3 separate regions of the Homo sapiens genome follow, and all the other regions are linked to region 2. The links come from fine-mapping of genetic effects on gene expression. A gene starts in region 2. Each other region holds a variant in brackets. All regions are shown on one strand. Distances are from middle to middle.

Evidence for each region.
Region 1: its variant is fine-mapped to the expression of SKP2 in whole blood (TOPMed, PIP above 0.99).
Region 3: its variant is fine-mapped to the expression of SKP2 in blood mononuclear cells (TOPMed, PIP 0.93).

Annotation. Positions count from the first base shown.
Region 1 is chr5:36,174,730-36,185,713 of GRCh38, forward strand. It overlaps SKP2 (S-phase kinase associated protein 2), which reads left to right. Exons shown (of 10, transcript NM_005983.4): 8 at 2,236-2,287; 9 at 2,456-2,563; 10 at 7,089-9,590. The coding sequence ends at 7,302. Among named protein-coding and RNA genes, the nearest start is that of SKP2, 28 kb to the left of the region's middle. The variant A/G (reference allele first, on the strand shown) is at 5,589.
Region 2 is chr5:36,145,744-36,156,727 of GRCh38, forward strand. SKP2 (S-phase kinase associated protein 2) reads left to right here and starts at 6,368. Exons shown (of 10, transcript NM_005983.4): 1 at 6,368-6,527; 2 at 7,028-7,299. The coding sequence starts at 6,520. It overlaps LMBRD2 (LMBR1 domain containing 2), which reads right to left and starts at 6,144. Exons shown (of 18, transcript NM_001007527.2): 1 at 5,813-6,144. MIR580 (microRNA 580) reads right to left here and starts at 2,245; the gene lies at 2,149-2,245. It also overlaps the pseudogene RNU6-1305P. RefSeq lists silencers at 5,415-5,474, 6,075-6,214 and enhancers at 5,428-6,411, 6,485-6,674.
Region 3 is chr5:36,226,230-36,237,213 of GRCh38, forward strand. NADK2 (NAD kinase 2, mitochondrial) reads right to left here. Exons shown (of 12, transcript NM_001085411.3): 2 at 1,248-1,336; 3 at 246-334. Among named protein-coding and RNA genes, the nearest start is that of NADK2, 10 kb to the right of the region's middle. The variant CCTAAAGA/C (reference allele first, on the strand shown) is at 6,350.

The DNA.
Region 1 (10,984 bases), 29 kb after region 2:
ATGGAATGGTTAAAGACAGGGCCTCTCTGAGGAGACTGTACTGGACCCAGAGAACTGACTGAGTGAAGAAGGAATCCATATGCATATGTGAGAGAAGAACATTCAAGAACAAAGGACCAGTGAGTGCAAATACCTTGATATGGAACCAATGTGTGAGAGGGAGCAGGGAGAACAGTGAGAGGAGAAAGATGGCCAAGGGCTGTCTAAGCCAAGGCAAAAGCTTTGAATTTTTCCTAAGTGACATGGGATATGGGAAGCCATTGGAGTATTTCGAGCAGAGCAATATGACTGACTTCATTTTAAAAGACTCACGCTAGTGCTGTGTTGAGAAAAGGCTGTAGCGGGGAAGTATGAAGCAGGGAGACCAGTTAGCAGACTAGGCTGGTGACACTTAAGGTGGTAAGAAATGATCAGATTTGGGCACATTTTAAAAACCAACATCATGAGATTTGGTGACACAATGAACGTGGGATGTGAGAAAAATAGTCCACTATGATTTCAAGGGTTTTGGCTGAAGCCACTGGATTCGTGAAATTATCACTTGCTGAGATGGGAAAGAGTTTAGGGAAGGAGGAAATTTGGGGGAGAAATTGAGTATTTGATTTTAGACATAAATTTAGAGGCCTATCTCATATCCAAACGGTATGTTGAGGAGGCAGTTGAAAATGCAAGTCCAGAATTTAGGAGAGGGGATATACTTGTGAGACGAAAAAACCCTCAAATGTTAATGAAGTTTGCCTGTTGTTCTAAATAAGTAACATTTATTGATTCATTTTCTGATTGCCAAGTAGCTTACATGACTTTCTTCCAAATTCTGAAAAGTTGCCTGTAATCCAAACACCCTTGAATACTGCAGTTAACATTTTGGATGTATTTCCTTGCAGCCTTTTTTTTTTCTTCTCTCTTTCTTTCTGTGTATGTGTTTGTGTGTAAATGTGAGTTTGAGTGTGTTTTGACCAAGTTGAAATTATAACGCATTGTATATATTTTGTTTACAAGCTATCCTAGTATTTTTTTAAATGTATGAAATGTTATCAGAAAGCGTTTTCATAATGATTAGCAGTGTATTTCACGGAATGGATGAGGTTAACATATTAAACTAACTGGAGGAGGGGCTAATATAACTGTTGCCACATTGAATATATTCATACACATCTATATTTTTCTAAAAGTGGAATTACTGGGCCAAAAGTAAACTGTATAATTCTCTGAATTCTTTAAAAAAAAAAGAAAATCAGTTCACTATCCAAAAAAAGCAGGAATCAGTTCACTATCCAAAAAACGCAGGGTTCAGGCTCCTGAAAGCCTGCAAATAAAATTAAATATCTACCTGTGGTACATGGAAGACCTACTTTATGGTAGACCTACTTTATAATAGAATTTTTTTTCACTTGATGGCTGAGAAGAAATATTTCTAATTTTATTTGGTATTTCTTGCTCCTTTTTATTATCTTGGTATTTTGCAATGTAGATTTGTTCATGTTCATTGCCTATTTTTGATTTATCTTTTTTCTCTTTATATAAGATTAACTCACTGTTTAATATATGTTGAAAACATTCCCAGTTTTCTGATACTTTTTAAATTGTTTTAATATGGTAGTTTTAAAATTTTATGTAGTAAATTTATGTGTTCCCTATGTTTTCTTTTATGTTTAGAAATACCTTATACCAAGATTCAATTAAATAATTACCCTGAATTATTTATTTAGTAATTTTTAATATTTAATATATTATTACCCTAAATACAAAAATATTATTTTTGTATTTAGAACTTATTATGTGGAATGTATTTAAATATGTTATTTGAGTTGGAGAAATATTTTTTTCCAGTTGTAGTGGCAATATTTCTTTTTACTGATCCATTATTTCTCTTGTTGATCTGAGGTGCTACCTTTGTAATATATTGTTTGCTTATATATACTGGTGTTTAATTTTACTTTTTGCTTTTGTGAATGGGATTTTTTTCCCTATTATTTTTCCAGCCTGCTATTGCTGATACATAGATAAGCTAAAGATTGTCATTTTACACAGTTTTCTTTTTCGGATGATTCTCTTGGGCTTTTTGGGTAGAAAATTTTATGTTCCAAGATGATCATTTTTTCTTTCTAATAGTGTGTGGTTCTAATTGCATTGCCCTGAACTTCCAGCATGATGTTCAATGATAGTAGTGATAACAAATATCCTTGTCTTGTTCCTCATTTAATAGTGACCATCATGTTTTTTTGCTTTTCCTAGATCTCTCTACTTTAGTTAGAAGATGCCCCAATCTTGTCCATCTAGACTTAAGGTATTTTTTTATTTGTTTATTTTAGATCAAAAGTTGAAAAATCTTGATTTCTCATTAAATTGGGAAAGGATCATAATGTTGAAGCAACTAAACAGTAGGTTATTTCTGTCTTCTTTATCTAGGATCAATGTGTGATTTTCAATATCTTTTCTTCTGCCTTCTTAACAGTGATAGTGTCATGCTAAAGAATGACTGCTTTCAGGAATTTTTCCAGCTCAACTACCTCCAACACCTATCACTCAGTCGGTGCTATGATATAATACCTGAAACTTTACTGTAAGTATGTTTTGTTTTTAATGCTTAATAGAAGGCAGGAAACAACAGAGATGCCCCTTGGTGTGAAAATCCATTTTTATTAATAGACATATGAAACCGAAACATTAGTAATAAGTATACCACAGACTGGCTATGAAAGACCAGCAGAGTATTGCTTAAACTGGTGAAATTGAGTTGATCCAGATTGTTCACTAAACATTTATTGTTTAGCTGTAAGCAGTTTTAATTACTAGCTTGCTGTCTTAGTATCTATGAGAAGACTTAGCAGAGAAGCAGAAGATAACCTTTTCCTCCAGGAAACTTGAAGTGTAATTGGGAAGGCAGACCCAATGTGGGTTAGTGTCTTTTTTTTTTTTTCTTTCCAAATTTTTCGGATTAACTCCAGTTGATTCCAAAACTTTCATCTGGGCTTAAAGTTCTGTATCTTCTAGTGATGTAAGTCCTGGATAGTGAAGAAATTGGAAAGATATAAGCCTGTAGATGGTATGTATTGTAAGTCTGATACTGTTTTTGAACAGGGGCATGTTAAGGTCTAAAAAGTGAAGTGAAGTGACTTATTCAAACCTGATGGTGAGTTGGTGGCTGACCTGGATCTAAATCCTAGGTCTCCTGGACAGAGGCAAAATAGTCACTATCTAATCTAATAGTTTATACAAGGGTTAGTTTTACCTGCTCAGCAACTTCCACAGAATCAAGGGAGTGCAAGAAAGCAGCAGCCTGGTCCATCTTTCCTTTGGGAAACACCATACCCAACTCATCCTGGGAATCATATCTTGTTTGAAAAGGTTTTCTGCATTTCATTCCAAAGGGCTGGAAAAGTCTCCCTAATGGCAAATGTACATGTGTAGCAATTTTATTAAAAACCACAAGAGGTCAGTATCTTAGAGTTGATCAGGTGCCCAACATGTCTTGAATGCGGCTGCTGGACTCATTTATGTAGCTCATGAACTAAAAGTTAATTTAGCTTCCAGCTCCTAGGTAGGAAGGGTGGTGAATTTGAACAAAGAACTTTAGTCCTCAGAATCATAGTTTGAATCTTTTAAGTTAGTTTCAAGTATTAATGAATAAATCAGATACTTCAGCTACACAGAGTTAACTAGTAGAGTTAGGAAATCTGGCAGCTACGCATTTTAATTAATCATTTTTAAATTAATCTTGGGGTTCAGGGTCTGAGCTGGTATCTCATTTGGGAAAGGACTGCCTAAAATAGGATGGCAGGATTTACTTTCCCAGCTCTCAAATGTTGGGGTTTAAATTCATGCGCATGAAACTCTTATTAAAATCCCTGCCCTCTCTATTTTCTAGCATCCAGAACTCCTAGGAGCTTCTAGCGTCTACCCAAAAAGGCTTCTTTGTCATCCATTCTTTCCTGTCCTTGCCATCTGGCCTCCTGCTTCTTTGCCTGTGCAGCCCCCTGGGGAGTGTGGTGATCATTCTTTTTGGGTTGCTTTTCTCAAGAGAATCTATCCATGTGTCTTGCTTTTGTTCCTTCTCTGCAGAAAGAAAGAAGCTAAGCAGGTAATGACCCAAATGCTTTTTCTCAAGCAGAGGCGAGGGGAAGGCTGTGAGCTCTTCATTTTAATATTTTTATCCAGTGGGATAATAGTAATAGTAATTGCGATACCTGCATAATAATGGCATGGTAATACTTGGAGGCAGTGTGAATTGATAGTTACAAACACGGGTCTGAAGTCACAGACCTGTTGTGAACCTTCACTGTATTATTATTTCTTATTTGTACAAATCTTATGAAATAAGACAAACAGGGGCATTAGGAGTTTAGTTACAAGTCAGACCACTAGAATAGAGAAGAAGAAAGATCCTGTCCTTGAACATTAAGGTAAAGAGTATATTTCTTTAGGTATTGTGTAAATAGTACACTGATTTGCATTGTGAATCCTTTAGGATGAGTTTGTTGGTACCTTATGCTTAAAAGTTTCTTGAGATAAAATAAGAATTAGAATGACTCTAATTTCAATCATTTTGGCAGCTGATATATTTGAGGTTTATAATAAAAATTCCAGGATGTTTCCATAATAATTTCAAGAGAGCCATCTATGCTAAAGAACTTAAGGCTATTTATTTCTCGGAAGTGGGAAAATACAATTTGAATGTCTTTCTTCTGTAATATTTTAAAATACTTGGGAAACTATAAAGTTTTCTTCCCCAGGACCTATTCCCATTATATTTATTCCCTTACTTCTTAATTGGTCTTCTTCTCTATGTCTAAACTTCCTTCTAATTCTTCCCTATTTCTCATTCAAGTAAGAAACCCAAGCTGGAGGTAGTAAACTAATCTAAGATAAGACTAAAAGACTTCTGTGGTAGGAGCATTTGTAGTTGAGGCATTTAAGATTTTATAAGGAAAACAGGATTATTGTACAGATAAGGTAAGGAGCAATCCTGTGAAAGAGTTCATAAATATCTTTTATTTTCTAAAATTCAATATACATAAGACATTGGTGTGATTTTACATTTCTTACATTAGAAATAATGGCTCTTGAACTACTTATTTCTATTTGCTATCCCTTAGTTTGCTCTTCAGTCTCTTCCATTGTAGTTTTTAAAAGATGCTTGCAAATTTTTTATTCTGAGTTGTAGGTAATGCACATACCGGGGGCATTTTTTTTTTTTTGTCTCCTTAAAATTTTAGAGACTTTCTGGATTTTTGACTTGGAACTGGTTCTTCATCCATCATCTTATCTTATATAACCCCCTTATATATAACACCCGGGTGTGTTCTGAGAGTCTGTTCTTAATTTCTTTCCTCACCAAATCTCTTTCCCAATGCTGTTGCAAGAACATGTCCTCCTCTGCCATCTGCCATTCCTCCTTTTCTTACTCCACCTACAGTTTCTTCCCTTAAATATTCTCCAGTGCAGAATGGCTCACAATTTGGCTAATTTGGATATACCAGAACCAGAATTCTCATAGTAATTACAACGTTTCCCAAGTTTCACATGAGGGATTCAAAGTTGGAGCTGGATTGCTGTCATCGTAAGTGATTAAGTATAAGTATCTGTGT[A/G]TACTGTGATCTTACTTCGACAGTGTTTCTACATTCCAGAAAGCAGTTTACTTAATGACAGCAATTTGTTCTTTCTGATTTTCTTTGGTTATATACCTTTAGATCTTATTGTCCCCTTGTGAACAAGCATATTTATTTCCCTTGGATAATGCTTTTATTTTATAAATTAGCCTTCATCTTGTACTCAGCTAACGTATATTAAACATTTGTGGGGTTTAAGACACCTTGTAGAATGTAGAATAAATACATTTAGGGGAGTAGTGGGAAGACTGGAAGAGCAGGTTAAACACGGAAGGTCTTCAGACTAGCTGAACAGCCTGGGTTCTGTAAACACAAGGGAAGCATCAAAGGTTTTGGAGCAGATGAATGACTAACATGAGCTAGGCTTTAGGAGGATGCCTTGGAAATTGGTATATAGAATAGGCTAGAAGGAAGAAAGACAGTTATAAGGAAAGTTTGGGGCTTTTTAAAAATAATTATTGACAATGTGAAAATATAAAGGATGTTTCTGACTTTAGGTAATTGATGTGCTCATTGATCTGTAGTAGGATTTTGTTGAAATTCCAAAATAAATGTTCCCTTTCCTGAGACTTTGTACTGTATGTCCCAACCTTGAGCAAACAGAGATGAGAGAGATGAATTTCTAGGCACATAGATCTGAGTTAAGAAGGAAAAAATCATTACCAACACCAAACAGTATTTACTTTGGAAAAACAGAATTTGTGAAACAGAATTTGAGAAACAGAATTTGTGAAACAGAATTTCACTGTTAACAGGGTTGAATTTCATCTAATGTGAAATACCTAAAGGGACTGGCTTATCTATGCAGAAAAAAAATGGTAATACGTAGGGAGGTAAGATGGCTATTACCTCCTATAAAGGGTGTGATTTTTCACCCATTGTCTCTACCTGTACCCAACTGTATAACCCTATCTAAAATATCTTAGGGAAGTCAGTGGTAGTTTTCATCACACATAATGGACTTGTTGACTATGAACCATTATTAAGAAGTTCATCAGTCCTGACAGCATCTCCCTTTAAGAGATGAGCCTAGTTCAAATAAAGGTCAAGTTCATATCCTTAATTTGCATGTAACCTGTGGTGGTTCCAACTGGTGCCGCAGTAAAACATTTGCTTTTACCATCACTCACTTGCTAGTTTCTTCTCATAACACAGTAACCCCATTCAGATCACTGTATAAATCACAACTGGAGAAAGGAAGCAAATATGGTTGGATTCTTAAATAAATCTGAGTTTCTAAGGTTATTAGGAACCTCATTCAATAAAATGCAGCAGTGTGTTTCCTAATGACATGTTGCTCAAGCTATATGGTCTGTGCTTTCCAGTTTAATTTGCTATTTTCTCAAATCATTTATTGTAAATTACACTTTCAGACTGCATTTTGTAGATGACACAAATTGTAAAATTTGGGTCATATAACTCTAGTCAAACAGTTTCCATAGATACTGCTATTCTGAAAGTCTTTTTCTTCCTTTCCAGTGAACTTGGAGAAATTCCCACACTAAAAACACTACAAGTTTTTGGAATCGTGCCAGATGGTACCCTTCAACTGTTAAAGGAAGCCCTTCCTCATCTACAGATTAATTGCTCCCATTTCACCACCATTGCCAGGCCAACTATTGGCAACAAAAAGAACCAGGAGATATGGGGCATCAAATGCCGACTGACACTGCAAAAGCCCAGTTGTCTATGAAGTATTTATTGCAGGATGGTGTCTCTTCTTTAGAACAGGGAAAATAGGCAGGAAGCCCAATTGCTGGAGTACTTAGCTAGTTTTATTCTTGGTTTTCCCTTTGCCTTCATTCTGCAAGTATACTAGGGAGCCATTTGAGAGGGAAAACTATGAAATCTTGCTTTTTGAAATGATTCTAAAAGCTTCTATCACTGCTTTGCTCTTAAGAGCCAAAGTTGTAGGCCTTTTGAAATTTTAGGAGAGTGAGCCTATAATTTCAAGATACCTTAAAGAGCAAAATTTGAGCCACCTCTTCCAAGTGCCCTTCTTACTAAGTCTATTCAGAATCAAGCTTAAAAATTACCACCAGCAAACAATCTTCATAGCCCATATAACTTTTATCTATTTAATTTTATAGTATTGCTTTATAAGACAGCTTAGAAGAACAATAAGCTATTTGTATTATGAGCTGAACAAAAAGAGAATCATAGGATAGTAGCGTCTGAGGCCATCTTTTCTAGGAATAGGAAAGAGAAAAATGTATTTGAATTTTGCCTTTAGATTTGAAATTAGGTTAATAGAAATAAGTAACCCCATGTAATTCACCTTAAAACTTAACAAAAGACCAAACATTACAAAACCCAGAGATATAGAATCAATATAGGATTTGAAGGCCCAGCAGACAGTTTTCTATGACAGGTTAATCTGAAGTATCCTGTAATGTTCATTAAGTTACTGTGTTTCCAGAATCTAAATTAGATGAGAAATATAATTGTGGTTTTCTAACTTGATAATCAAATTATGTTAACATGGGTCCTTTAGCTTTTAAAATGACTTGCTTTGTTTTAGAAAGGTGGTATTAATCCACTCTCTATTCTTGAAAATTTGGATGGGAGAATTCTGAAGTTGCCTGCTGTTTTCCTTTAGCGCTGAGGTTCTTAAGGTTACTTTTATATTACTCTGGAATCAAGTATTTTAAATTGTATTTTTTTTTTAAATGATCTCTCAGCAATAATTGTTTGAAACTATCCATATATAAGGTTATCAGACCTACAGTTCCCTAAGAGGAACTGCATGTTCTCTTCAATCAGAAATATACAGTAGAAGCAGGTATATCTTCCATGCAGTTTCAGTAGTAAGCACTACTTATACCTACATAAGAGTTAAAATCCAGATGTGGGACCTTTTGATACCATCAGTGATATATATTTTTTTAAACTGGTACAGAGAAGTGAAAAGATTAAATTCTACTTCTATTTTTTTTTTTTTTTTTTGAGACGGAGTCTCGCTCTGTCACCAAGGCCGGAGTGCAGTGGTGCGATCTCGGCTCACTGCAAGCTCCGCCTCCCAGGTTCACGTCATTCTCCTGCCTCAGCCTCCCGACTAGCTGGGACTACAGGCGCCCACCACCACGCCCGGCTAATTTTTTTGTATTTTTAGTAGAGACGGGGTTTCACCATGTTAGCCAGGATGGTCTCAATCTCCTGACCTCATGATCCGCCCGTCTTGGCCTCCCAAAGTGCTGGGATTACAGGCATGAGCAACTGCGCCCAGCCAAATTCTACTTCTTAAAAATCACAAAAACTAGTTTAAATTGATGACTTGTTCGTATGTTCAAAATGTAACAACAAAAAAAGCTAACACCAGTCATTTATATTAACTTTTTTTTTTTAAATCAAAAATTGTTAATGTTAGAAACATACTATGAAGTGCCTTTATCTGCTTAGACCTAAGGAAGATTTTAAAGTTGGGTTGCACAGGAAATGATGATGCTTCAATTTCTTAATAGTTAAAAAGTGCTAAATACTACTTGAAATTATTGTTTACAGATTAGTGACAAGAGCTGGGGTTAGGATCCGGTTGGACTCTGACATCGGATGCCCTCAAACATACAGAACTTCCAAACTCAAGTCCAGCCATAAGCTATTTTGCCAACATGTCAGAGTAATCTGTATTTTTGTATGTGATTTCTACTTTTATAGACTTGTTTTAAAACAATAAAACACATTTTTATAAAAATGAGTGCTTAAACTAAGTTGTATTCCTTTTTTCTTTCTCTTTTTTTAAGTGCTGTGGTTAAAATTTGAAAGCATTTAGTGTGGTATGCCATTTGGCTTAGATACCTCTAAATAAGACTCTTCAAAACAGAGCCCTGAGATGGTCCTTTTTGACCCATCTACTTCATATGCTTGTCACATTAAAAAAAAAAGTTTATAATGCCTTTATAAAAGGGGCTAATACAGTCTTGTTATCTTTTTTTTTAAATTATACTTTAAGTTCTAGGGTACATGTGCACAACGTGCAGGTTTGTTACATATGTATACATGTGCCATGTTGGTGTGCTGCACCCATTAACTTGTCATTTACATTAGGTATATCTCCTAATGCTATCCCTCCCCTCTGCCCCCACCCCATGACACGTCCTGGTGTGTGATGTTCCCCTTCCTGTGTCCAGGTGTTCTCGTTGTTCAATTCCCACCTATGAGTGAGAACATGTGGTGTTTGGTTTTTTTGTCCTTACGGTAGTTTGCTGAGAATGATGGTTTCCAGCTTCATCCATGTCCCTACAAAGGACATGAACTCATCATTTTTTATGGCTGCATAGTGTTCCATGGTGTATATGTGCCACATTTTCTTGATCCAGTCTATCATTGATGGACATTTGGGTTGGTTCCAAGTCTTTGCTATTGTGAATAGTGTTGCAATAAACATACGTTTGCATGTGTCTTTATAGCAACATGATTTATACTCCTTTGGGTATATACCCAGTAATGGGATGGCTGGGTCAAATGGTATTTCTAGTTCTAGATCCTTGAGGAATCACCACACTGTCTTCCACAATGGTTGTACCAGTTTACAGTCCCACCAACAGTATAAAAGTGATCCTATATCTCCACATCCTCTCCAGTATCTGTTGTTTCCTGACTTTTTAATGATCGCCATTCTAACTGGTGTGAGATGGTATCTCATTGTGGTTTTGATTTGCATTTCTCTGATGGCCAGTGATGATGACCATTTTTTCATGTGTCTCTTGGCTGCATAAATGTCTTCTTTTCAGAAGTGTCTGTTCATATCCTTTGCCCACTTTTTGATGGGGTGGTTTTTTTCTTGTAAATTTGTTTGAGTTCTTTGTAGATTCTGGATATTAGCCGTTTGTCAGATGAGTAGATTGCAAAAATTTTCTCCCATAGTGTAGGTTGCCTGTTCACTCTGATGGTAGTTTCTTTTGCTGTGCAGAAGCTCTTTAGTTTAATAAGATCCCATTTGTCAATTTTAGCTTTTGTTGTCATTGCTTTTGGTGTTTTAGACATGAAGTCCTTGCCCATGCCTATGTCCTGAATGGTATTGCCTAGGTTTTCTTCTAGGGTTTTTATGGTTTTAGGTCTAAGTCTTTAATCCATCTTGAATTAATATTTGTATAAGGTGTAAGGAAGGGATCCAGTTTCAGCTTTCTACATATGGCTAGCCAGTTTTCCCAGCACCATTTATTAAATAGGGAATCATTTCCCCATTTCTTATTTTTGTCAGGTTTGTCAAAGATCAGATGGTTGTACATGTGTGGTATTATTTCTGAGGGCTCCGTTCTGTTCCATTGATCTATGTCTCTGTTTTGGTACCAGTACCATGCTGTTTTGGTTACTGTAGCCTTGTAGGATAGTTTGAAGTCAGGTAGCATGATGCCTCCAGCTTTGTTCTTTTTGCT
Region 2 (10,984 bases):
AAAGACTAAATATTAGAGATTACCAAAGAAATGCTAAATAAAGCATGGCAGAGCCAAATGATGAAATATTATTGTAGTATAAGAAATAATGTTTGTTAAGATTATTTAATAACATCAGAAAATTACCCTAACAGCAATTGAAAATTTGGCACATATTTTTACATAAGCATAAAAAAGAGTAAGGTAACAATGAAATATATTAAAACATCAATAGTCTTTAGGTGGTAAGATTATGGGCATAATAAGCAAACAACAAAATCAGTTATAAACCTGACACTAGCTATTAATTTTTTTACTATGGCACTCTGTTTTTCAGTCTGATTCATAGTCAGCACTTTAAAGGGTTGTAGATGAAGAAATAGAATTATGGATCCTTTATTCTAGTAATAAATGATTTGGTTACATACCTTCCCACACTTCATGTGTTAGTATCTTACCACTGCTGTAACAAATTACTACAAACTTAGTGACTTTAAACAACATCCATTTAGTATTAATATCTTATAGCTTCTGTAGGTCAGAAGTTCAAACATAGCATAGTTCAACTTAGTTCTCTGCTTAGGGTCACACAAGTTTAAAATCAAGGTGTCAGCAGGTTTGCATCTTTCTCTGAAGAAGAATCCATTTCTAATCTCATTCAGGCTACTGGCAGGGTCTCACACTGTCGCCCAGGCCGGAGGGCAGTGGCATGATCATGGCTCAACATAACCTTGAGCTCCTGGGCTCAACTGATCCTCCCACCTCAGCTTCCAGATAGCTAGGACTATAGGTGCACACCACCACGCCTGGCTAATTTTAAAAAAAAATTTTTTTTGTAGAGACAGGGTCTTGCTATGTTGCCCAGGCTGGACTCAAATACCTGGCTGCAAGTGATCCTCTCACCTTGGCCTCCCAAAGCACTGAGATTTCAGGCATGATCCACCTAGCCAAGCCAAAACTCAGTTCTTTATGGTTATAGGACTGAGATCCCTGTTCCCCTGCAAACTGACAGCTGGCATTTAACCTTAGCTCTAGAGGCCTCTCCCCAGTCTTTGCATGTGGCTCTGTATATGTTTTTAAATTGTATATATTTAAAGTGCACAACAGTGATGTTTTGATATACTGTACATATACAGTGAAATAATCACCATAGTCAAACAAATTAACATATCTATCTCCTCACTCACTTCTCTCTCTGCGTGTGTGTGTGTGTGTGTGAGTGTGTGTGTGTGTGTGTGTGTGTGTGTGTGTGTGTGTGTCTGTGGTCCTGAATATTTTAGAAGCAGCAATGGCTTGTCAAATTCTTCTCACACTTGAAATTTGTTTTACAGGGCTTATCTGATTACACTGGGCCTGCCTGAATAATTTCATCATTTTTACTGGTTCCAGAGATAAGAGCATAGACATTCTTAGGGGTTTATTATTCTGTTTACCATACCATCTATTTCTGTTGAGGCCGAACTATATTGCCTTATTATGACACAGATTAGGACCAGTGATCCCATGAAACTGGAGATAAAAATTGGGGTTTTCCTAACTTGAGAAAATAATAGTTTCAAAGTCCATATCTTTAACCTTGTGCCAACATTCAAGTGATGAGTTGCAAGGTTTAGGGAAGAAGGAGAAGAAAGGGGATGATAATGATGATAATGATGATGATGGTGATACTAAAATGGGGAGGTAAATAAAAATTCAGTTCCATGTGATTAAGCACCACAGTAGCAAAACTTGATTATACTCGAAATCAAAATGGCAATTCATTAAAACTACCAGATTTTAGTGCCCGATGTGTGGGCATATCGTACCCTTCAAAACACCAGTTCTGAAAGTCTTAAACATTTAAAATCCAATTCAATCTTTTTCCAATCATCAAAATATTATTCAATATTACTTTCAAATGCCTTTATAATGGTTTCACAATTAGCGTGTTAATGTTACTGACTAATGTTACTGACTAAAGTACTGTTTCCTGAGTACTTTACGGCTGATAATAGTTTTTCAGGCCAAATACCCTTTGATGGAACTTCAGAGGTTAAGATAATTTTGTAGTTTGAAGAATTCCAAATGTTTTGAGAGAGAGAGAGAGAGAATGGGTACCAAGTGATCAGAACACAAACAAAACACTGACAACAATTTTGTCAAAACCAAAGATTCTGAAACTGAATGAAAAATTTCTGACCGGAACCTAATGATTCATCATTCTCAAATACTGTTAACTTAAATATCTGAGTCTGATGAATCATTAGGTTCCAATTGGAAATTTTATCTAACTTCACATATCTGTATTTTTACTCAGATATGTGCAAAATAATAAAAACCAGGAGACAACTCAAAATCCTAATTATGAAAAATCAAAAGAACCAGAATTAGAAGTGAATGATTAAGTCAACAATTTTCCACCAATAATTAAATTTAAATCTTCCAAACATAATCGTTATTCACATATTTAAAGATTTCAGGTATGAGAGAGTTCAGTTTAGGACACAGACTACTGCAAGAGACTATTACTCCCACTCGAAAAATGAAAAAAAAAAAAAAACCATCATAATATTTTTTAAAGGTACCTAAGAGCTGAGTTGGCGAACCAACCAGGTAACCTGAATTCCAAAATGTGACAAGCCCCTGAGGACAGTGGCATACTGTCCTGCTTTACCTTTTGCAAGGCATGAAGAGAAGAGGTAGCAATCATGTAAGCATATAAGAAAAAAGAACTAAAATTTTACTGAATTCTTAAAGATTTCATACATAGAAATTGCAAGACATTTTGATAGAGAATAATCTGTAAAGTCCTTCCTAATAATAAAATAATTTCAAAAAACGAATAGCTAACATTTAGAATGTGTTCACTAAATTTTAAGCATTGTATTAATACTAGTACCTGCCAAGCTTTATCAAATTAGACCTCACAACCTAGTAAGAAAGGGCTGTTCGTTTCCTTGCTTAACAGAAAAAAAACAGTGCAGAGAGGTTAAGTAACTTGTCCAAGTTAACAGAGCTGGTGAATGGTAAAGCTGGGATTCAAATAGAGGCATCTTTACTACAGAGCCTGGATCATAATTACATGTCTCTTCTCTAATCTAGACATAGTTTCTTAATGCAATTTAAATTGCTTAATGATTTATTTTGTTCAGTCTTCACAGGGAACAAATTAGAAACTTTCTCCCATTTCTTTTAGATATATCAGGACAGAATGCTTAGTCATGTTTAATAAAGAATTTAACGCAAACTTTTTACATTACAGATTATACTACTATTACTTGATTTAAGGGTAATATATGACTGTACTCTACATGGGAAAAGTGGAAAACATAGAGTAAATTAGAATCCGTTTGTTCTTGCCCCAAGCTGCCTATCTTAGAGCATTAAATTACAATGAATTAAAGATCTACTTAGTTCCAAGCACCATTCATTCATTTAGCAAATATTTACTGAACGCCTACTATATGGTGAGCTCTGTTCAAGGGGCTGGAGATAGAAAAATCCAAGCAAAGTCCCTGCCCTTAAAAAGTCTAGTGGGAAGAAACAGGCAATTAAAAAAAATACATTAGGGGGTGATAAGGGTTATGTAAACAGGTAGCTGCCACCACCACAGAGACTATCAGTTCTGGAAATACATTATTCAAGATTAGTTTGGCTACACATAACAGAAAAGTCCAATATAGTACAGACTTATACAATGCAGAATTTATTTCTCGTGTAAGTCTTGAGATAGGTGGTTATGGCAAGTTAGCAGATTATCAGAGGCCCAGGCCCCTTCTATAGTCCACATCCTTAGCAGGTGGCTTTAATCCTTATGTTCCAGGACAGATGCTGGAACTCCAGGAATCCTATCATCATCTAGACAGCAGGATGGAGAAACAAAGAAGGGTGGACCGTCTTCCTTTTAAAGAGATGTAAGAATCGGCTGGGCACGGAGGCTCACGCCTGTAATCTCAGCACTTTAGGAGGCTGAGGTGGGTGGATCATCTGAGGTCGGGAGTTCGAGACCAGCCTGACCAACATGCAGAAACCCCGTCTCCACTAAAAATACAAAATTAGCCAGGCGTGGTGGCGCATGCCTGTAATCCCAGCTACTCAGGAAGGCTGAGGCAGGGGAATTGCTTGAACATGGGAGGTGGAGGTTATGGTGAGCCGAGATTGCGCCATTGCACTCCAGCCTGGGCAATAAGAGTGAAATTTCTTCTCAAAAAATAAAAATAAAATTAATCAGAAAAAATAAGATACATCAGTAGCAATCACAATGCAGTTCTTTATGACCAGATAGCAACCTCTATGTACCTACTAATCTCGTCTTCAATGGACACAATTCCTTACGTTAAAAAGAATCTAATGTACCAATTTAAACTTGCATTTATTATATTAAGGCAATAGTCATGATTAGAAGGAAGGCAAAAAAAAATTATTCCCATATTAGGAAGATGAAGTATGTCTGTTACCGGGGCAAACTATCAAACTGAATTTCAAAACTGACAGGCTCTCCCTGAAGTCCTAGAGAGGATCTTGTGTTCACTAATTCAGATGTTGCAAGTATTCTAGTTCCCAGGTAACTCCTAGTAAAACCAAGACTGAACAAAGATATTTCTCATCTTTAAATTTAGAATCATCTCATCGATTAAACCTTCCTATCTATGAGATCTATATCTGAAGTGGGCTCTCCCAATTATTTTACATCTCAAAACTGTTTATTCTCATTATGGCATCTTAAATATTTTTGTTTATTCTTTCTCCTCCATTAGCTTACAGGCTCTCTCTGTTTTGTTCCCTTTCCTGAAGGAAACTATAATTTTTTGTGTCAAAAATATTTTCTCCTATGAGTTGCAATCTTCAGGGAAAGGACGTAGCTTCAAACAAAGGCAAATGCTTTCTCCTTAGCCAAAGTAACATAAAGGTCACTTTCTGTAAAACATCAGGATATTGCATTTTAAAATGCTTTCCATATAACATTAGTTTGATGAACGGCTTAGCCTAGGATTCTGCACCTAGTTCCAATCAAAACCAAGTTGTGAACAGATCCCTTCTTTACACCAATCTCATCTTTCAAGAACGAGCTAAAGGTTCATGAATTCCTTCCTCAAGAGGCAGTTACTTTTCAAGCTAAGGACCAAGCTTGAAACAAGCATATACCTGCACAAGGGAGGTTTAATTTCACTACAGAGCGAATCATTTTTTCAAGGAAACCAGAGGGTGTGTCATACAGCATCACTGAATATTCTAATATGCGATGAAGCTGTTATGCTTCCTTATGAACTTTATAAATCTTCATTTTTATGAGGCTTAGAATTCATCCCCCTTCCCTCTTCCACTGTTTTCCCGGGGTCACAGTTGTAGTATAGTTTGCCCAATGGATTTCGCATGGTCATTGTACCTGGAATATGTCACGCTCCCTACTCTTACTGCCCCCAAACTCTTCTCAGCAGAGATAGGCTGAAAGCAGCTCGCTTTTAGGCGGCGACGCAAACACACGTAGCCAGCTGAGCGACAGCAAGCAACCAAATGGCTTTGCTGGAGGCCCCCTGCGTGCACGGGTAAAGCTCGTTGCAAAATACAGTCCTTTCATTTATTCCCATGTTGCTATTTATGAGACCTGTCAAGGCTGCAAGGGCATGCGCAGCCTTCCCACCACACAGGACCCGCTGGGGTCTCCGGCTCCCCTAAAATTAAACCATTGTCTCTCGTTCCAACGGCGTGTTTAGCTGTTGTGCGTTATTTTACAGATAAAGGAAGGATCCCGTCCACAGACCCAATTCTTAGGGCCGCCTTCTCCCCGACGGAGGAAGAAGCTTCCTGGCAAAAGGACGAACAGGTGCGACGCCAGCAGTTCGCAGCCTCTCACCTGGCCGGCGGGCTGGGCTACTGTCACCACTCAGCAGCCAAGGACTTGGGCCCCGCAGCGGCGGCCACTCGGGGTCTGCCGGGTCCCCTCTCTTTCCGCCTGCTCTCGGCCCCGGACCCCAGACTCAAAAGCGCCTCACGCGTTCCGCCTTAGGCTCACCGTCCGATCTCGCCAGACAGCGTCTGGACGGGACCGGGAAACGGCGGCCGCCACAGCTGTCCAGGTTCTGGGATCCACGCTCAGAGACGACAGCGCTGGCGATCACCAGAAGGCCTGCGGGCTCCCGAGAAAGGAAAATCCGTCTACAGTCCAGCGGCTGACATTTCCCAGTCAGCCGTAGCGCCGCCCGCTTCCGCCTCCCCGCCTACCCCGTGGGCCGACCAGTCCCGCTCCCGCGGGGGGTTGTGGGTATCTCGAAGGCGGGTAAAGCTGCAAGGGAAGGAAGTAAGGGCGAGCCCGTCGGACTACGAAGCGGGACGGAAACTACAATTCCCAGCAGGCCTTGGGCCTCAGTGCGGCCGCGAAGCAGAGCGGGCTGTAGAGCCTTGCGCGCGCAGTGGGGATGGAACGTTGCTAGGCTTAGCGGGTCTGGCTGCTGGGGGCCCGAGCAGCACGCTCGGAGCCGCCGCGCGCCAAAGCGGGAATCTGGGAGGCGAGCAGCTCTGCAGTTAATGCACGTATTTTAAACTCCCGGGCCTGCGGACGCTATGCACAGGTAAACGGATTGCAAAAAGGGGAAGAGCATGAAATGGACCCTCTTAATAATTCTTTTAGGCCGCGAATATCGCTACTGGCTAATATTGTTAGTAATGCTGTTAAGTGAATGGTTGCTTAGCCCCTTCTTGGGGAAAGTGTGAATGGATGGATGCCTTAGTGCGGGGATCAGCGTGTGGTTTTATTTGGCTTCCCTAATTGGGCTTTTCTGCCACCGTTTTCAATCAGTGTATGATTGCCCTGTCTCTCTCCTTGTCTGTTCCCTCCACTGGGAGAAATTCTTGAGGCCTTCTGCAGGATCGTAAGTCAAAAAGCCTTCTCGATTTGTTCTTTTCATTTCTTCGTTTTCTTGGTAACTCGCCGCAGGCACATAAAAAATGCGATTCTGTTAGCTGCTGTGAAGGTTTCCTACAATGCATAAACTGCAGCTTCTTTAATTGCCTTGAAATTATTTATGGGTGTGTTTTCGAAAGGAACCGGGGGTATTGTGCACTTCTGCAGGAAGCACCTCCAGGAGATTCCAGACCTGAGTAGCAACGTTGCCACCAGCTTCACGTGGGGATGGGATTCCAGCAAGACTTCTGAACTGCTGTCAGGCATGGGGGTCTCCGCCCTGGAGAAAGAGGAGCCCGACAGTGAGAACATCCCCCAGGAACTGCTCTCAAACCTGGGCCACCCGGAGAGCCCCCCACGGAAACGGCTGAAGAGCAAAGGGAGTGACAAAGACTTTGTGATTGTCCGCAGGCCTAAGCTAAATCGAGAGAACTTTCCAGGTAAGGACATGAGGGTAAAAATGTCAGTTATGCAAAGGGTGGATTTAGCTATGTTGTTGGGAAACCTTTGTTCAGAGATCTTTAGCATGGGTTCCTTTTAAGATTGCCTAATTCTGAAGCTATTTTTCAACAAAATAGGGCAAGTCGTCAAGTATGCAGGAATCTTGGTAGATATATATATATATATATATATATATATATGTATGTTCTGGTGCATAATCACCTTGAAAATTTTAACCCATGAGAAGACATTCCTGCCTTTTTCCTTAGAAGGGAATCTGCCTGCCTCAAGGCCAGCTCAGTTTCACCGTTTAACAGAAACATAAACAGTGGTCTTCTTGTAGGATTCCTTTTGCTTTGTACCCCTGAGTGATCTTTTTGCCTTAATCACTTTAGTTATTTATCAGTGGACTGCGAAGTGAACGTTCACCTAAGTGGGGGAGACATCTCCCCAGGCCCACTCCCACCCCCATATTGGCTTCTCCTGGTATGTTCTGTCTCCATTACTGCTGACACTATCTGTTTAATCACCCAACCCGAAAACCTGAGAGTCAGTCAGCTTCCCACCGCCCCCCAACATCCAGTCATTCATCGCATCTTTCCCTCTTCTCTGGTAACTATTTCTCAAGTTCTCGTCGTCTCTTGCCTGAACTATTGGAGTGGATTCATAATTCCAACCTTCTTCTCCCCAGATCTATCCCCCGAACTAGAATGGATTGACTGAAATGTAGAACTTACTGTATCTTCCCTCCTTAATAGCTCCCCATCCCCTAGTTCCTCAAGCAGGCGAACGAGTGCCTCCCAGAGTGAACCAGAACCCTGGAGTATGCAAAAGCCATAGGATAAACAGGGCATTGACCTGGGGTTATCAGTTTTTCTTACTAGTAAGCTATTTAAAACAGTAATACAGCAAATATTTGCTGAGCACATACCATGTGCTAGGCCGTGTTCCAGGTGCTGGAGATAGAGGAGTGGGCACAACAAACATTTCTGCTCTCAGGGAGCATCCATTCTAGTGAGAGAATACAATAAACACAATAACTATTTTTATATAGTATGTTAGAAGGTGATAAGAGCTATGGCTAAAAACAAAAATAGAACAAGCCAAGAGGGAATGCAGGTCTTGGGGTGGGAAGATAGAGTGCACTTTTAAACCAGGTATTGAGAGAAAGCCTCAATTGGACAGTGACCTTTAAGCAAAGACATAAAGGAGGCAAGGAGTGTGCCATGCAAATATCTTGGAGAAAAGAGCTCCAAGCAGAAGGAACAGCCACTGCAAAGACCCTGGTGCATAAATGTGACGTATTTGTTCCAGGAACAGGGAAGCCATATTCTAAGAGTGGAATGAGCGAAAGGGAGAGTCGGGGGAGATCAGGCTGGAGGTAATGTTGAGCAGAGTTGTGATGGGACCTGATTTAACCTTCTAAAAATGACACACTGATGTGTTGAGACTCAGCTGCAGGGGCATCAAGGGTAGAAACTTAGGGTCTTTTTTAAATTTCATATTTTCAAGACGGAGTCTTGCTCTGTTGCCCAGGCTGGAATGCAGTGACCTGCTCTTGGCTCACTGTCTTCACCTGGATTCGAACGATTCTCCTGCCTCAGCCTCCTAAGTAACTGAGACTACAGGCATGCACCACCACGCCCAGCAATTTTTTTATTTTTTGTAGAGATGGAGGTTGCGGGGGCGTTCTCACCATCTTGCCCAGGCTGGTCTCAAACTCCTGGACTCAGGCGATCCTCCAGCCTTGGCCTCCCAAAGTGCTGGGATTACAGGCATGAGCCACCACACCTGGCCAAAGCTTGAAGTCTTGTTGGGGGTGAGGGTGGTCAGATTCCGGATATATTCCCACATTAAAGTCAACAGAATTTAGGAGGCTGTTGAAATCATCTGTGGAAGAGGTGATCAGAGTCTAAATTGAAATCAGGTGGGGGATGATGGCGAAGAAGAAACAGATTAAACATTTAAAGATGAAGTCTTGCAGACCCAAGGTAATTTAAGTATATTCATAAATTCTCCCATCTGGTTTCCTTTGCAGAAGGGTTGATAGATTGGTTGTTTAGTTGATTGGTTGGTTGCTCGCTTTGGCAGCACATATACTGAAACTGGAAATACAGAGAAGATTAGCATGGCCCCTGCGCAGGAAGACATGCGGATTCGAGATGCATTCCACTTTTAATTAAGAAAATAAATACGTTTGTTTTCAGCCTTTTCTTTAGGAAAGAGAACTTTGCCCAATTTATGGTCTGGGAATATACATCAGGAATTGGATTAGTTAGAAAAGCAGTAGAGGGTTGTAGTGAAGTCAGATCTGGGTTTGAATCCTCATTCTTGCGTTTATCAGCCTTGGAAAGTTATTCGAGCTTTCTTTGCCTTAGTTCCTTTATCTGTGAAATGGAGTGCTGTAATAATACCCACTTCACAGGTCGTCGTGAAGATTAAATGAGAATGACGTAAAACCCTTAGCATGCCACTGACACGTAACAATACATAAGCCAACAAAATTCCTGACACCAATTTTGGAGGCTAGTGGACTTTTATCTTTTGTTTTTAATATTGTTACTCTGACCCTGTTAGTATAAAATTTTTTTTCTTCAAAATTTAATGTTCACCGCTCTTCTTTGTGTCTGGAATGTAGCCCTAACAATCTGGTGCTTGACCAACCAAATATGGCGAAAGATACTTCCTGCTAAGATGAACAGATTTTTATTAACCTGTCCAGTGCCGATAGCTTTTGACATAGAGTGTGATTGCTATATGCCCTTCCACAAGTGAAAAAGAATTTTTTTTAAGCAAGGCACTGTGGGAACAAGACAGAAGTTTCCGGAGTCTTTGCTATTTCCCAGGAATTTGCAAGTCAAGTTGAGGAGAAAATACAATAAAAAATAAGAGCTGTGATTCCCATTCAGGTGGATGTGGAAGATCTTCCTCCTTCCACTCAGCAAGAAAGGAGATTCTGAGGAAAGAGAGGGCTCTGAAAATGGTGTAATCAGTGTCTTGATGGTTAAAGCTGACTTCAAAAGTATATATCTGAAGGGAGAGAGAAAGAATGGTGACTTTTATGTTTATTACCTAAGGAGAGGCACAGAGGGAAACCAATGTACGTGGACTTACAACAGAGATTGCTTAATTGGTGTGGAGTGGGGAAGGGTGAAATCAGTGATGCAGGATGAGGGACAGCTGGTATAGAGGATTCCCAATGGGCCTTTGGAAGCCTGGGCCTCCAGTGGAGCCGGATTGTCATTCCAAGGAGTTTTGTCTGCAGTTGTCAGGACAGGTGGCTACTAGCTTTGCCAGGATTAGGGTAGAACAGGCCACACCTGCTGTACATAGATATCTGATGACTGGTTCTGGGCTGCAAGTTTTTGTTGGTTCTTTGCTAAGCAGTTTCTCCCTGCAGGCCCCAGTCCAGCCGTACATCTGGCAACTAAATCCTCTTCATCCGTTTATCTGGGAAGATGAAAGCTCTGTGGCCAACCTGTACTAGAACAGGTCTGATTGGCCCTTGGAGTGAGTGTATGGAAAGAGTTGGGGAGGAAATGGCCCAGCAATGAGGTCAGTAACAGGCGGAAAGGGGACAATTGCATTTTATTTATGGTCATGAAATGCTTGTCCCCCACCCCACCCTTTAAACAGGTGATAGCCATGAAAATGGAGGTGAACTAATTTGTTGATCAGCTCTTC
Region 3 (10,984 bases), 80 kb after region 2:
CTTTGAATCATATTTGAAGTTAAATGCATACCTTAAATATGCACAAGGAACCTCATAGTAACGTCATTCATTTAAAATGTAGCCTTGTATAAAACAGAAGTTTTAAACTTGATCGTAACAATCCAAAAATGTGTTTAATGGTAAGACTCTGAAGGCTTCAATATAGCTAGACCCTAGGGTATCTGGAAATAATGTGTATTAAACATTTGTATATGCCAACATCTTTACTTCTGTCAAATTATTACCTCCTGCAGCTATGACAGCATCTGCCCATCGAACAGTCTCTTCATCATATTCTCTCCTCTTTACTAGACGAACCTCAATTCCCTCATTCCTAGGATAAAAAAGGAAAGGTTATATGAAATTTCCACTAATAATATATATAACAGGGGTATGTTTTCTGAGAGGCAGATGATTACAATAGAGATGTAAAATAAATTTGTGTCTTATAAACAAATTTACATGGAGCTTTATAACATTATCTTTGTTTTCATTTAATTACAACAGCCAATTAACTATGATAATTAAGGAAGCATATGAATAAATCGAAAGTTATATCCCAAATCTCCATGTGCTTTAAAAGCTTTTATAACCACTAGTGAATAGCAATATTGGTTAGAATTTCATTTTCTCTACTCCTTCTAATGCTTAAATTCATAATACAAAAATGGTCCAGAAGACTAACACCTTAGAGTGACAATTTTTTAAACTATAAAACTGAATGGCCATTATTTTAAATCCAACAAATATTCATTGAGTACCAGACACCGGAATAGTGACTAAATACTTTGTAATTCGCATGTTTCTCACACTGACTCTCTTGTACACATATAATTGTGTTTAGTTCTGAATTAACTGAAGTTTCTGTAATTTTTGGACAGAAGTTTCTATAATTTTCAAACACTCAAAAATATTATTACAATGAACACTCATATAATCCACTAGTCTGTTTTAATAAATAAAATATTATACAGTTGAAGCCAGCTGTGTAACTGAATTAACTCTACAGAAGATGCATTTCTCTGGAAGACCAAATAATTGAAAACACCTGTGACATTTTCAGAGAACAATAAATTTTTCTTTAAAGATGCTATAAAATCAGATCCATTAACCTTGATATAATTTTCTGAAAATGATTTTATAATAACAATCATCACTAAAAATCTAAGAATGGGCTGCTAGTACAAAATAAAAACTGGAAGTCCTGAATATAAAATCCAACCCAAGACCCAATCCCATAGACTTACCGTAAACTATCTATAATATGTTCTACATTTTTGGTGTGAATATGATGTCGTTCAAGAAGTCCACTGTAACTAGAGCCTTTCAATGCAAGCTATATCAAAACAAAAGAAACGTTGTTTTACTAATATATATTACACATGATGTTCTAATATTATGATTTTTAAAAGCCCCGTATAAAATATAATTTTTTGAAAATATATTTTAATAACTACCTGTGAAACCTACAAGTACAAATTGAACTAGAAAGCCTGATATCAGAAAATTATAATTTGGCTTTAATACCAAATACAGCATTATGTTTTCTGAATCATATAGTCACCAGGATCTCAAAATCTTATGTTTTACAGCTTAAGTTTTTTATTTTTTTTATGACTTTTTTTTTTTTTTTGAGATGGAGTCTCGCTCTGTTGCCCAGGCTGGAGTGCAGTGGTGTGATCTCGGCTCACTGCAAGCTCCGCCTCCCTGGTTCATGCCATTCTCCTGCCTCAGCCTTGATGACTTTTTAACACACTGCATATGGCTACTTGATGACCAAAGATAAACTAATACTTGTAGAGGCGGTTAGATGACCTTTGTTCCACTTGGATTTGCTTCTCTCTTGTTCTCAGATTTATAAACTCTATTTGGAATTTACCTTACGAAATCTAAACAAAGGGCTGACTAGCTCCCTTAGAAAGGATAACTTATATATACATATATCCTTCAAAAATTATTTTTCCTAGTTGGAGTAACATTTTATAACTATCTTACCATTAAAATTTTTTTAACTATGTTTCTTATGAATAATCCATAAAGTAAAATGTAGAGAAAAAAGTTCAGAAATATCCTTAGTGAACACCCATTTAATCACCAAGTAGGAAATTTGTCCACTAGAGTGAATGCTAGAATTCAAAAGTGTGTTATTTGTACTTTCTTTGCTCCTCCGAATTCCTTTATACCTTTCCTTTCCCTTTTTCTTTTCTTTTTTTTGTTCTTGAGATGCTGTCTTGCTATGTTGCTCAGGCTGGTCTTGGACTCCTAGGCTCTAATGATTCTCCTGCCTCCGTTTACCAAGTAGATGAGATTATAGGCACGTGTCACTGTGCCCAGCTTATACCTTTCCTCTTTATGTAACAAAATCAGTCTTTCAAATACCTGTCTAGACATGATTTTTTTTTTTTTTGAGACGGGGTCTGGCTCTGTTGCCCAGGCCGGGGTGTGGTAGTGTGATCTCAGCTTACTGCAACCTCTGCCTCCCGGACTCAAGCCGCCCTCCCACCTCAGCCTCCCAGGCAGCTGGGACTACAAGTGCACACCACCACAACCAGCTAATTTATTTTATTTTTTTTTTTGGTAGAAATGGGGTTTTACCATGTTGCCCAGGCTAGTCTCGAACTCCTGGGCTTAAGCAATCCACACACCTTGCTTCCAAAAAAGCTGGGGTTACAGGTGTGAGCCATCACACCCAGCCTAATATACAATCTCAAATATTTTGTTTTAAATCATTACTTACTGAACTATAAAGTAAAACTAATTTTTAGACAGCATTTTAATACATATTTTACTTTTTAAAGGTTATAAAGAAAACACTAACAATATGGAAAATGCATATTTAAAGAAAATTGAAATCAAATATAATCTTATGGCTCAAAATCATTAGTGTTAATATTTTGATACCTACCTTCCCCATCTTTTGCCTACGAATACTGGGTTAAGAGTTTTTAAATAGTTTTGTCCTTGCTTTGTAATTTTCGTTATGTTCTCACAAAAGAGAAGCTGAGGAAGCATTTGGCTATTGTGAAAATTAATTAATAGATGTTAACTTACCAAGATATACTATAATAGATTAGACAGCCTGTGCCAAAATTTAATGCCTAGCCAAAAGCCTCATTAAACTTAGACTAAGCAACCAATGTCAATAATTTTTTAAAGGAAAGCACTGACTATGATAATAACTAGAAAAATCCTTCATTTAATTTAATCAACAAATCAACATGAGTCAGTAAGGTTTGAAAAACTATTTTAGAGTAGAATTTCTTAATATGGACCAACAGAGCATGAATATTCAGATTACCACTATCATTACCCAGCTACAGATTGACTAAAACGGCACTAACCACCTCTCAGTGAGTATGGACCACTACCCTCTCCCTTGGCAATCTCTAGTTTCACGGCTTTAAAAGAGATCTATATGCTGATGCTGATGATTCCCAACTGCTATCTCCCAACCCGGCCTATCTTTAGAGCCTCAAATACATTTATTCAACTGCTTATTTGACATCTTTCTTTGGCTATCTAACAGGCACCTCAAATTTAGAGGGCTAGATATTGAACATGCTAGATACTGAATACTTGAAATGCTATTATTATTCATTCAGTATCTAGCATGTTCAATATCTAGCCCTTGATTTTCTGGCCCAAGAATTCCCCACCTATGGCTTAAGCCAACAGTCTAGAGTCACAGCCGATGCCTCCTTTTTTGCTTATTTCCACATCCAATTACTAAATCTTATATTTGATCCAAGCACTTTTCTCTTCTTCCCCTCTACCACTCATGATCTCACACGTGAACCACTGCACAAGCCTCTGACAGGGGTTCCCTACTTCCACTCTTGGCACCCTATAGATTATTCCGAACACAGAAACCAGAGAGACCACAGCATGTCTCTTCCTCAGCTTAATGCCCTTCTACAAATGGCACTTTCTTCCTACCAACTCTCAGGCTTATGCCACCTGACTTCTGCTCCTTTCTCCTACCTCATTTTTCCTCCCCATTCCCAACACTCTAATCTCTTTGGTCTATTTTCACCAAGCTCTTCCTTTGTACTTGCTGGAATGCTTTCCATCCCTCCACCTAACTCTGACTCTTTTTAACCCTGGGGTGCCAGGACTGCTGAAACAGCTGCTGCTAGTGCTGCCCTTGCAGCTGCAACAGCCACCACTGCCAATTACTCCATCCCAACACCTGTTAATTCCCTTTTTTGCATTTACCACACCTAAAATTTCCTGGTATTTTTAAAAAATCCCTTTGAATCTCCTTACTAGAATATAAGTGCTGGGAGAACAGTGATCTTACTTATCTTGTTTGCCATTGTTCCTCAGGGCCTAAGTACTAGCTAAGTATTTGTTGAATGAACTCATGCATACATTTTCCAGAAAAGCAAGAATAGTGCAGAAGCAGATGCTACAGAAGATAACCCAGAAAGTGACAACAGTGTGCAAACCAACCCTTAGAACTGAGGAGAGTTAGATTAGTTACTATAGTATATTATTTTGTTATAATTATCTCTTACAATTCCACTTTAGGCGTGAACACTTTACACAGCTAGAAGTTAAGCTCTAAAAAAAATTCATCTAAATATTTGACTGCCTACTACTGTGTTCATTTAACTACTAGTTGAACTTAATCAAATGTATTAAACAAGGCACTGCAAACTGCCAAAGACAATGATAACTAATTCAAATGCACAATAAGCCTATTACAACAGTTATATCTAATTTACCACTTCTACTTTAAATAAAACTTCAAGGGTAGCTGGCCCTCATACTTCAATTCCCTATCCAGGATTTTTACCTTATGTTCCAAATTTTGGTTTGGACAATATGGAACATGTACCCAGGAAAAAAGCACATAAACCTTACTGTGTAAGCCCTGTAAATGCTAGTCTGGTAGTTCAGAAACTTTTATGCTTACTTCCTGGCTCTCGGCAAGCCCCAGGAAAATAAGATACATGGCGTTGACTGTTAGGGAACTTTGGCTTGAGATGGCGAAAGGGTCTGAATTTGTGGGAGAAAAAGTTTTGGAGAACTAACAAAAAACTTCAAGTTTTCTATGATTGCTAACAATAATAAAATTCCTAAAATTCCAAATCTAAATACAAAGTTCAGGCAGCATCAGAATACTTAACATTGAAGCAGAAATGTCAGTTCATAAATTCTTATTCCCACTCAAATTTCTTCTTGTGAACTAACTTTCTAATAAGTCATCCTCAACATTCATTTAGAGAATGTAAGTTCTTATTTTCTTTAAAGGCCTCGCTGGTTGGGCTATTAAGCTTTATTAACATGAACTGGCTAAATGAGACAGATAAAAAATAAGAAAATCACTTAATAAACAGCATCAATTAGAAAGGCTTAAATCACTATTCAACTGGCTTTAATTCTTCCCTTACATTCAATCGCCACAGCCAGTGAGTACTGAAGTCCAATAATTATATTTGTTTAAAAGGCATATGCAAAAGCTGGTAAGAATTTCTTGCTAAACCTTTGAAAATAACATGACTTCAAATATCTTAAAACACTCCTTTAATCAGACAAAAATAAGAACACATGATTTCTTAGACAATGTCTTACCATTAAAAGGTTAGAGAAATTACTGAAATTTAGAACACATTCCCAATTCTCTGCAATGTTACACAACATTATTAGTAACAGTCTTTAATATTTTCCCCAAAAACCTGTTAATTCTTCTCTCCATTAAAATAAATAAATAAATAAATAAAGATTCACCAGGACACTTGGAAAAAGCAGGTGACTCCATGAGATCTACAGACAGACAGACACATTTCAATATAAGCAAGAGTTTCTCCTACAGAATCTCCGAAAGCCAAGATCATGTCTCCCCACACAGCTCTGATATTAAAATAAAGCACAACATGTAAGGAAAAAAGCAAGATTTTGAATGGATAGATTTAGCACACTTTAAGATCCAGATGTGATAGTTATGCTATTACCTAAATGGTTTATAACACCTTTATTAAATTATCACAGATGGTTTTACTTATCTAAAACTAAATTTATTGCAATTACAAATTTTTAAGACTTGTTTTACCAGTCAGTTGAGTATTGCTATTTTGTACTCTATGTAATTTCTATGATAGCTTAATAAGGGAAGGAGTTAAGTTTTTTTAAATTTAACACATAATAAATGCACAAACTTTTGAGACAATGACAGTTCAGTATGTCAATCCACTAGGCATAATTTAGGCACCCTTAAAAGCATACACATTTAACTAAATGGTACTCTAAGTGTTACTCAAAATTGCCTTAAAAAGGTTAACAGCACCTAATCAACACCTAGATACTCAACCATTCACCTAACATGATCAGACCTAGTGCACTGAAC[CCTAAAGA/C]CTTCTTCACATATATTTGGTATTTATCTTAGATCATCTCTATTCCACTTACTTTCTCCCAGGCTCTCACCTTTATTTTCCCCAACGTTCTCTATTTCTGCATTCCTCTGTTAATTCTGTTGACCTCCTCCCTTGATATTGCTTGAGGTTCCAACTTTGGTTTTCTTATCTGCTCTCACTTCATTTTCTCTGAGTTATCGCCCCACTCCAGGAAACTCACCTACCAAGTATATCCCAGTAACCTTGAAATCTATACTGTTAGTCCACGTCTCTTGATCTACAGCCTTGAATTTTCAAATGCTACCTTTACATCCATCCACAAATAGTTCAGGTACCTCTCTCCAAAAATATCAAAACTTGATTATATACTCCCCCTCAAATCTGCTCTTCTGAGTCCAATTTATCAGTTAACAATAGCATCATTTACATGAGCAACTTAATAAATCCGTGTCACCTTTAATTCTTCCTCACACTCAATGTCCACAGCCAGTCAGTAGTGAAGTCAAATAATTACATCTGTGAAGTGTTTTGACAATCTATGTACTTTAAGTTCATGCTGCCACTGCTTGAGTTCTGGACAACACCAACTCTTATCTGGTCTAATGCAAAAGCTTGCCTCCAGATTTTCTAAACTAGTTCCTTATTCAAAAGTCTTTGACTAATTCCCATCCCCTAACTAACCTTAACACCACCACATTTTGGGCGTCGTATGAAAACAAAAGCCAGTTTTCATACAACGTCCAAAATGCTGAAATCTCAGAAAAATTGACCCTCATCACCCAATTCCTATGGAGAAAGACAGGCTGAGCAAGGGTTGTGTTCTACCATAAAGAGTCTGAAAACCACTAGGAGATAAAGCTAACTCCTTGGCAAGAGACTTACCACCTTTATAAGGTCCACTCTACCTGTTTGGCCTCAATATACTATGATTTTCAAATTGTCTTAAAGTGCATTATAAGCTGGTCACAATTTAACGATCACAGCCAGCATTATCATTAACTAGAAAATAAAACATACTAGGCTAAATTCTTCCCTGTTATCTTTTATTTAAAATATATTTTTAATTCTTCCCTGTTATCTTTTATTTAAAGATGTTTTTATAAAACATACAAGGCTAAATTCTTCCCTGTTATCTTTTATTTCAAATTTATGTACTGAGTCACAATGTAAGAGATCTCTGATTATGGATCACAGTCAGTTTTGAGTTCTTTTGGTTGGCTACAAGATGAACTTCACGCAAGTCTTGCTGTTCTCTCCTTCACACATAAAAATTCTTCTGTATTTTTCAATATTTAATTCAAACATCCTGAAATTAAAAGATACCATTTCACCTTCATATTAGCAAAAATGTTAAAGTCTACTAAGTGCTGTTCAGGAACCCACTAAATGCTTATGGAAAAAATTATTTGTACTTCTAATTACAATATTTTTTTAATAATGGAAAAACTGTGACTAACCTAATTATCCAAACAATGAAATATTGCACAGCAGTTAAAATGTATTAATGGGCCAGGCGCGGTGGCTCACGCCTGTAATCCCAGCACTTTGGGAGGCCGAGACGGGCGGATCACGAGGTCAGGAGATCGAGACCATCCTGGCTAACACGGTGAAACCCCGTCTCTACTAAAAATACAAAAATTAGCCGGGCATGGTGGCGCGCGCCTGTAGTCCCAGCTACACGGGAGGCTGAGGCAGGAGAATGGCGTGAACCCGGGAGGCGGAGCTTGCAGTGAGTCGAGATCGCGCCACTGCACTCCAGCCTGGGCGACAGAGCGAAACTCCGTCTCAAAAAAAAAAAAAAAAAAAAAAAATGAATTAACACGTATCTACACAGATAAGTTTTGAAACCAATAGTAAATAAGAGAAGCAAATTTCTAAAGAATAGGCACATATTCTAAAGAACAGAATTATCATTGACTAACTTTTAAAAGACACACATGATGTTACACTTGTTTATGGATACTGTCATATTAATAAATGTAAAAGCATATGTATGAGAACAATACACTTAACGTCAAGGCAGTGGTTACCTCTGGTGAGGTAGGGAGTGGGAAAAGTTGGATGCATAAGGCTTTAGTTGTAATATTTCCATTTTTAAAATTCTGAAGCACATATGGCAGAATATTAATAGCTGTTAAGTCTAGGTAGCTGAATACACAGGTGTCTTGTTACTTTCTGAAACATTTCTATATGTTTGAAATATCTCATAACTGAAAATCTAAACTTTAAAAAGATCACTGAAAATCTACTCAAAAGTTGGGAGTGGGGGAGTCTTTTCTCCCCTTCATCCCTACCCTTCCCAAATTGTTCTCTCCCTTCCCTGTACTCCCATGGATCACTTATAAATATTTATAATATAATGTAATAGATGTTTCCCATGTATTTGGAAACTGTTTACTAATCTTTGATTCTCCAGGATCCAGCAGGATGCCTAGCAGTTAGCAGGGGCTCAAAAAACGGTTTTGTGAACAAATATTTAAAAGTGACACTTTAAACAAATTAACTAACAGACTTCCTGGATATTGCCAATAGTGACACTGTAGCAAGTACTTTTAATGCAGATCATAATTTTTGTAATTATTTTCTCTATTACTTTGAAATGATAACTTCTTTAAAATTTTGGTTAAAAAAACACTACGCAAGCAGAGTTAAAAATCAACATATTTTTAGTTCACTTAAGTGATCTATCTTAGTAAAGGAATCTACTTTGGAGTTAACCAAATCAATGCTATTTCAGGTACATAATTTAAATATATGTAACATTTACATAATGATCATTATTGTGGCTAAACTGGAATTAGATTATGCAGCTTTAAGTTAAATTATGTAAATTGTAAATTATTTCACCTTTCTAAAAATTATGTGAGAAAGGAAAAGCAGGTATTACTATAAATATTTCAAAGCCAAAGAGACTGATTCAGAGAGGTTAGGTTACTTGCTCAAGATTACAAAGACATCAGATTGTGCTTTCAGGATCAAAACTCTGATCTTCTGCTGTTAAAGCAGGATTTGTCTACTCTGTTATATCCATGCAGCCACATACTACTAACATTCCTACATTAGCCATATATCTTACTCCTGCTTGAGAACTGTGAATACTCATTAGGCCACTAAGCCTCAATTGTGATGACTAAGTTACATAACTCAACAACTATTCTGTTCTTTATCAGGACCTAATTCTACCACCTTTCATTTAGGAAGAGGAGAGCCAATTGGATGAACCCTCCTTCAATGCAAATGTTTTACAAAGATTGGTCTATTTTCCTGCATAATCCATATCTAGTGGTTTATTATGAAGAAAATATATATATATATATATATAAAAAATAAATTTTCCTAAAGCGTGAAATAACTGGCACACTTGCTGATATTTTGAAATTATATATTTCCGTTGTACATTACAAAGTTCACTGATAGTGACAAATAAAGTCAATTTACACTTTACTAGTTGAGAAGAGATTAATGTGCATCAAACACAACTATTAGAAGTTAATTTATATAATTAAAAATATAGTAAAATGATAACAGTGAAAAATTTTGTTATTTGCAATCTCATGGCTGGTCACATATTTGTAGTTTTTAAAACCTCCCCCTAGATAATGCTTATATACAGTGAAGGCTGAACATCAGGGCTGTGAAGCATGTTGGTCAATGATTCTCTAATGGTGACACTTCAGCTACTGTGATATTTAATTCTTCTACATCTTTGTGAGTTTCCTATTTAACTGCAAGTATTTATAGAAAGGGAGTATACCTTAAACCTCTGTTTTCCAAGTTGTGTTCCACAGAATTTAAAACATTTTCTGCTCCCTCCCACCAAAAAGAATCCCATAGTCAAATAAAAATCATCTTTTGCTTGGGCTCATGTTTTTCAAAGACATTTAACCCGAAACCTCTATCAAAGAATCCAAAGCTTAAGGCTTAAACTCTGACTTAAGCTTTCAGCAGCTAACATCTGGAAAGACAGACAGCTGGTAATAAGGCCCTGGACTAGAAGGAAGCTGGTCCCCAGGCTCAAGGAGAAAAGACCTAAAAATGATCTTAACAGAACATCAGAAACATTTTACTACTTTTTTTAGTGGAAGTATGGGGGTGGAGAGGACGATAAAGGAGATGCAATTCTTGCCCTCAAAGAGTTTACAGTTTAGAAAAGAAAATAATCACAGATAAGTATTATGAAGTGAAGAATGCCTAACACAATCTTGGTAGCCAGAGAAAGGCAGAGGCACAGCAAGGTTACCAAGGATGGCATCCTGAGAGAGTAATGTCTGAGCTTAACCTCAAAAAAAAAAAAAAAAAAAACAGGAATTGGATAGAGGAAGAAGAGCATTCAAATCAAAGGAGGCTACAAAAGTAGACACATAGACACTGAGAGATGCAAATTCAACCACCCTGAAATACCATCTTTCACCCACCAGGTTGGCAAAGACCCAACAATTTAATGAACTATGTATGGAAAAATAAGTCCCCTTATACAGGGCTGGTGAAAGTAAAAATCTGTATAATCTCTAAGGGAAGCAATTTGGCCAAATCTGTTAAAACTTTATATGCACAAGGCTTTTGACTCAACAATTTCAACTTTAGGTATTTGTCTTAGAGCTTGATTTACATGCATATAAACACAAATG